Regions from separate parts of the Homo sapiens genome. Here region 1 is linked to region 2. Evidence: fine-mapped expression QTL. A gene starts in region 2. The other region holds a variant in brackets. All regions are shown on one strand. Distances are from middle to middle.

The links. PIP is the estimated chance that this variant, and not a neighbour inherited with it, causes the effect.
Region 1: its variant is the best candidate, but not a certain one, in a credible set for the expression of KHDRBS2 in tibial nerve (GTEx, PIP 0.71).

Annotation. Positions count from the first base shown.
Region 1 is chr6:61,391,400-61,394,316 of GRCh38, forward strand. No RefSeq gene overlaps it. Among named protein-coding and RNA genes, the nearest start is that of KHDRBS2, 890 kb to the right of the region's middle. The variant G/C (reference allele first, on the strand shown) is at 1,329.
Region 2 is chr6:62,284,537-62,287,453 of GRCh38, forward strand. KHDRBS2 (KH RNA binding domain containing, signal transduction associated 2) reads right to left here and starts at 1,689. Exons shown (of 9, transcript NM_152688.4): 1 at 1,322-1,689. The coding sequence starts at 1,412. RefSeq lists a silencer at 1,549-1,638.

The DNA.
Region 1 (2,917 bases), 890 kb before region 2:
TTCACTAAATAACTAGACAGAAGCATTGTCAGAAACTACTTTGTGATGTTTGCATTCAACTCACGGAGTTGAACATTCCTCTTGATAGAGCAGTTTTGAAACACTCTTTTTGTAGAATCTGCAAGAGGATATTTGGACCTCTTTGAGGCCTACGTTGCAAACGGGATTAATTCATATAAAACTAGACAGAAGAATTCTCAGAAACTTCTTTGTGATGTGTGCATTGAACTCACAGAGTTGAACCTTCCTTTAGATAGAGCAGTTGTGAAACACACTTTTTATATACTTTCCAACTGAATATTTAGGGCGCTTGGAGGCCTGCGGTAGAAAAGGAAATATCTTCATAGAAAAACTAGACAGAATCATTCTCAGAAGCTACACTGTGATGTGTGCATTCAACTCACACAATTTAACCTTTCTTTTGATAGAGCAATTTTGAAATCTTCTTTTTGTAGAATTTGCAATTGTGCATTTAGAGGGCTTTGAGACAGATGGTCGAAAAGGAAGTATCTTTATGTAAAAGCTAGACAGAAGCATTCTCAGAAACTAATTTGTGATGTTTGCATTCAACACAGAGTTTAACATTCCTTTTGATTGAGCAGTTTTTGAAACCGTCTTTTAGTAGAATCTGCAAGTGCATATTTGGGCCTCTTTGAGGCCTTTGTAGGAAATGGAAATTCTTCATATAAACAAGACAGAAGAATTCTCAGAAACTACTTTGTGATGTGTGCGTTCAACTCACAGAGTTTAACCTTTCTTTTGATAGAGCAGTTTTGAAACACTGTTTATTAAGTCTGCAAGTGGATATTTGGAGTGCTTTGAGACCTATGGTGGAAAAGAATATATGCTCATAAAAAAACTAGACAGAAACATTATCAGAAACTACTTTGTGATGTTTGCATTTATCTCACAGAGTTCAACATTTCTTTTGATAGAGCAGTTTTGAAACAGTCTTTTTGTAGAATATGCAAGTGGATATTTGCACCTCTTTGAGTCCTTCGTTGGAAACGTGAATTTCTTCACATAAAAACTTAACAGAAGAACTTTTCTCAGAAACTTTTTGTAATATGTACATTTAACTCAGAGAGTTGAAATTTCCTGTTGATAGAGCAGTTTTGAAACACAGTTTTTGTAGAATCTCCAAGTGGATAACTAGAGCTCTTTGAAGCCTATGGTAGAAAAGGAAATATCCTCATATTAATAGTAGACAGAATCATTCTCAGAAACTACTTTGTGATGAGTGCGTTCAACTCACAGAGTTTAACCTTTCATTTGGTAGAGCAGTTTTGAAACACTCTGTTTGTAATATCTGCAAGTAGATATTTGTA[G/C]TGCTTTGAGGCCTTCTTTGGAAAAGGGAATATCTTTACATAAAAAGTAGACAGAAATATTCTCAGAAACTTCGTGATGTCTGCACTCAACTCATAGAGTTGAACCTTCCTTTTGATAGAGCAGTTTTGAAACACTCTTTTTGTAGAATTTGCAAGTGGATATTTAGAGCGCTTTGGGGCCTATGGTGGGAAATGAAATATGTTCATAGAAAAACTACACAGAAGCATTCTCAGAAACAATTTTGTGATGTGTGCGTTCAACTCACAGAGTTTAACATTTCTTTTGGTAGAGCAGTTTTGAAACACTCTTTTTGTAGAATTTGTAAGTGTATATTTAGAGCGTTTTGGGCCTATGGTAGAAAAGGCCCCAGACGCTCTAAATATTTTTCATATAAAAACTACACAGAAGCATTTTGAGACACTGCTTTGTGATGTTTGCATTCAACTCACAGAGTTGAACATTCCTTTTGATAGAGCAGTTTTGTAACACTCTTTTTGAAGAATCTGCTAGGCGATATCTCAACCTCTTTGAGGATTTCATTGGAAACCAGAATTTCTTCATATAAAAACTAGACAGAAGTATTCTCAAAAACTTATTTGTGATGTGTGCATTCAACACAGAGAGTTGAACGTTCCTTTTGATAGAGCTGTTATGAAACGCTCTTTTTTGGATTTCCAAAGTGGATATTTAGAGCGCTTTGAGGCCTATGGTAGAAAAGGAAATATCTTCATAGCAAAACTAGACAGAATCGTTCCCAGAAACTACTTTTGATGTGTGCGTTCAACTCACAGAGTTTAACCTTTATTTTGATAGAGTGGTTTTGAAACACTCTTTTTGTAGAATTTGCAAGTGTATATTTAGAGCGCTTTGGGACTATAGTGGAAAAGGAAATATGTTCATAGAAAAACTAGACAGAATCATTCTCAGAAACTACTTTGTGATGTCTGCGTTCAACTCACAGAGTTTAAATTTTCTTTTGATAGAGTAGTTTTGAAACTCTCTTTTTGTAGAATCAGCAAGTTTATACTTAGAGCGCTTTGAAGCCTATGATAGAAAAGGAAATATCTTCACATAAAAACTAGACAGAAGCATTCTCAGAAACTACTTTGTGATGTTTGNNNNNNNNNNNNNNNNNNNNNNNNNNNNNNNNNNNNNNNNNNNNNNNNNNNNNNNNNNNNNNNNNNNNNNNNNNNNNNNNNNNNNNNNNNNNNNNNNNNNCTTAGAGCGCTTTGAAGCCTATGATAGAAAAGGAAATATCTTCACATAAAAACTAGACAGAAGCATTCTCAGAAACTACTTTGTGATGTTTGCATCCAACTCACGGAGTTGAACGTTCCTTTCGATAGAGCAGTTTTGAAACACTCTTTTGTATAATTTCCAAGTGGATATTTAGAGCACTTGGAGGACTATGGTAGAAAAGGAAATATCTTCATAGAATAACTAGAGAGAATCATTCTCAGAAACTACTTTGTGATGTGTGCGTTCAACGTACAGAGTTTAACCTTTATTTTGATAGAGTGGTTTTGAAACACTCTTTTTGTCGAATTTGCAAGTGTATATTTAGAGGGCTTGGAGGCCTGTGGTAGAA
Region 2 (2,917 bases):
TCCACTTTAATTTATATTTTTTTTCATTCAGTAACCAAGAAAGTAGTAGGCATAATTGTATTTCACCTTCCCACTTATCTATAAAACTAGCTTTTTCCCTGAAAACAGTTTAGTTATTTCACATGTTCCATGTTTTGAATATAAATCTTTTCCTAATTGTTTAGTATTTAAACATAGAAAAATACCTTACACTTCATTGTTAATATAAATAACAATTCATAAATTAAAAAATATAGCTAATGCCTATTTAAATCATATATTGAGGAGCAGAATTTATTCTTCCTTGGTACAACTAAGTCTCAAAAAAATCTTTTAATACTGAGGAGCTTGGGTAGAGGAAGTTATCCGTTTTAGTTTTTTGCTGTATGTAAGTCCATAACAAACTTAGCTACAAAACTGCATTGTAACCAATTTGATGATGAAGCAATTCATTATTAATGAAGCATTCATCTAAAAAAAATCTGCAGATGTTTTAAAAAGGCATGGGTAAGTAACTACAGATACCATAGGTGTCTTTAGTATTTAGATGGCATTATTATAACATAAATGGAGTAATTCGGTTAATAAAGTTCATGTGTCTTTTTTCAAAAAAAAACCTTTCAAAGCAATGCAAAAAACAAGACATATGTGTTCCTCTAGGAATGAAATCCCCTTTAACATTACAGGTACACAAAAGAAAATGCACACTTGGTAAAACAGTTGATCAATTATAGAGTGTTCCCAGGGACCAATATCTCACAGAGTACCCAATCATCACACTTCAAATAAATGTATAAGCACTTTAGCCTTTACTTACCACATTAACATACATATAAGAACATGCATAGTTTAATGCATAGGTTAATTCTAACACTTTCCATAGGATAGACTTTGATTAAAGGGTATCAAAAATCACTTCCTAAATGCAGCAAAAAATAAAAATAAAAATACCGATCTGTAGCTACGAAGCTCTTAGAACACTACATTGATCACCATTTACTTCCAAACTGCTTTCCCTTCCCTCTGCGAAGTGAAAATGTCCCTGTAGACCGCGTTACATACACTTTATGGTTTCTCTATCAATGATCCTAACAGGTCACATCGCCACTGCCATTAGATCTCCGTAGCTTTGGTCTTCTCCAAATTAAGACGTGGAGAAGGAGCACTGCTGTCCGCCCCAAGAACGGGGTCTGTCCGCCCGAGCTCTAAGGCGAGCATCTTCAGGGGGACAGTTTCTGCGAAGGCGGGGAGAGGAGTCCCTCCCCAACTTCACTCCCCTAATCAAGCCGCGGGTGAGATAGGCAGCCGGCGGTTTGTGCCCATCTGTGGGGGCAAGTCCTACCTTCTGCCAAAAGGCGCGACGCATGCACAAAAGATGGATCCAGGCTATCTTTCTCTGCCATCAGCTCAGGCAAATATTTCTCCTCTTCCATAGCGCGGACTTCGGATTGTCCCCGGGCGAAGCGCGAGGTTCCGCTCGCTCGGACGCAGGCAGGGTCTTGGGGCAGCGCCTGGCTCCCGCGCTGCTCCTCCTCCGCGCGGCGAGGGATCTCTGTGCGTCCTCACTGGCCCATGCACCCAGCACCTGCGACTCCCGCCGTCGGGCTGCGTGGCCCCGCGCCCACACCTGCCCGTCCCTTCCGTCGTCCCTCGCTCGCGCAGAGCCCCGGCTCACACCAGCGGCCTTAACTGGAGAGGCGGGAACAGGACGCGGCCCACCTCCGCCAACCACTCATTGGTGGTGGTGCCAGGAGAGGCGGGGCGCTGGCAGAAGGCCGCGGGCTCTCATTGGGCGGTAGCGCAAGTCGGGTGGCCTGACTGGCAGGAGGCAGCTGCAGAGGGGAAGGGAGCTCGGAAGATGCAAACGCTTTCTTCTTGCGCCCAAGCCTTCCCTGGCTATTAGGCATGCCCAGTTTTGTGGAGTTCTCTGTGTCTTCAGCTAAGGCGCAGAGGAGAGAGAGCGCGGGAAAAGCGCAGGTTAAAGAGAGAGGTCTGAGTACAAGTGGACAGGGGAGATGGAGATGAGAAGTGAGCCACCCGAGAGGGTGGAAAAGCGCCAGGGAAAGTCTCAGGAAGGTAGATGGGACTTCACCTGCGTCCCTAAGGCACAGGTGTCTCCTTTCCCTCACACAGCTCAGGCGCACTCCAGTTGTGCAGGAATCAGCAGCGCACTGGGTCTGGAAATACAATGAAGACTGCATGTGATCGGCAGCTGGTATTTCCGATGACCTACATCTCAGGGACGCAGTAGGATGTTCATTGATAAACAAATAAAGCGGCTCGAAGAAATATTGTGCAGAGACATGATTGAGGTGTACAATCATTAGGATATTGAATTAGTTCTGGTAACCTATCCGTGCCTCCTTTCCCCAGACCCTATCTGTGGAAGGGAGGTTGGGAGGGGCTGAATTTAAAAACCAAAAACAATATGATTCATTAGTCACAGTTTGTGAAAGAATTGGGAAGACATGTAGAAGAAAGAAGAGACTAGAAAATAGGTAACCACGTTTGCTCTAATTTTCCCCTTTCTCCTAGTTTTAGATGTGCCAGTCTCTTTCACCAGGTACTGTTGCTGAGCTACTTTGTATTATCCCACCTCTATTTAAAGGAAAGTTAAACCCTCATGATATCACCAAGCGTGGAGGCAAAGCCCATCCTTCTTTTACCAATGCGGCTATAAAATGTAACTTGCATGCCTCAATCGCTAGGAAACAATCTTTCCCCAAGTCTTGGGTTCTCGTTTCATAAGTAGTCATTTCCTGATTCTTCTCTCCCCCATTATTTTTGGTGTGGAAGAATGAGGGCCAACTTTGCTACAAATAAAATGTGCTGAAATTTTTCCAACTTATCTTACTGTATTTAAATATTTTCCTTTTAATTTTTAGATAAATTCGGGAGATTAACTTTTATTTGTATAATGTTTAAATAACGTAACGTG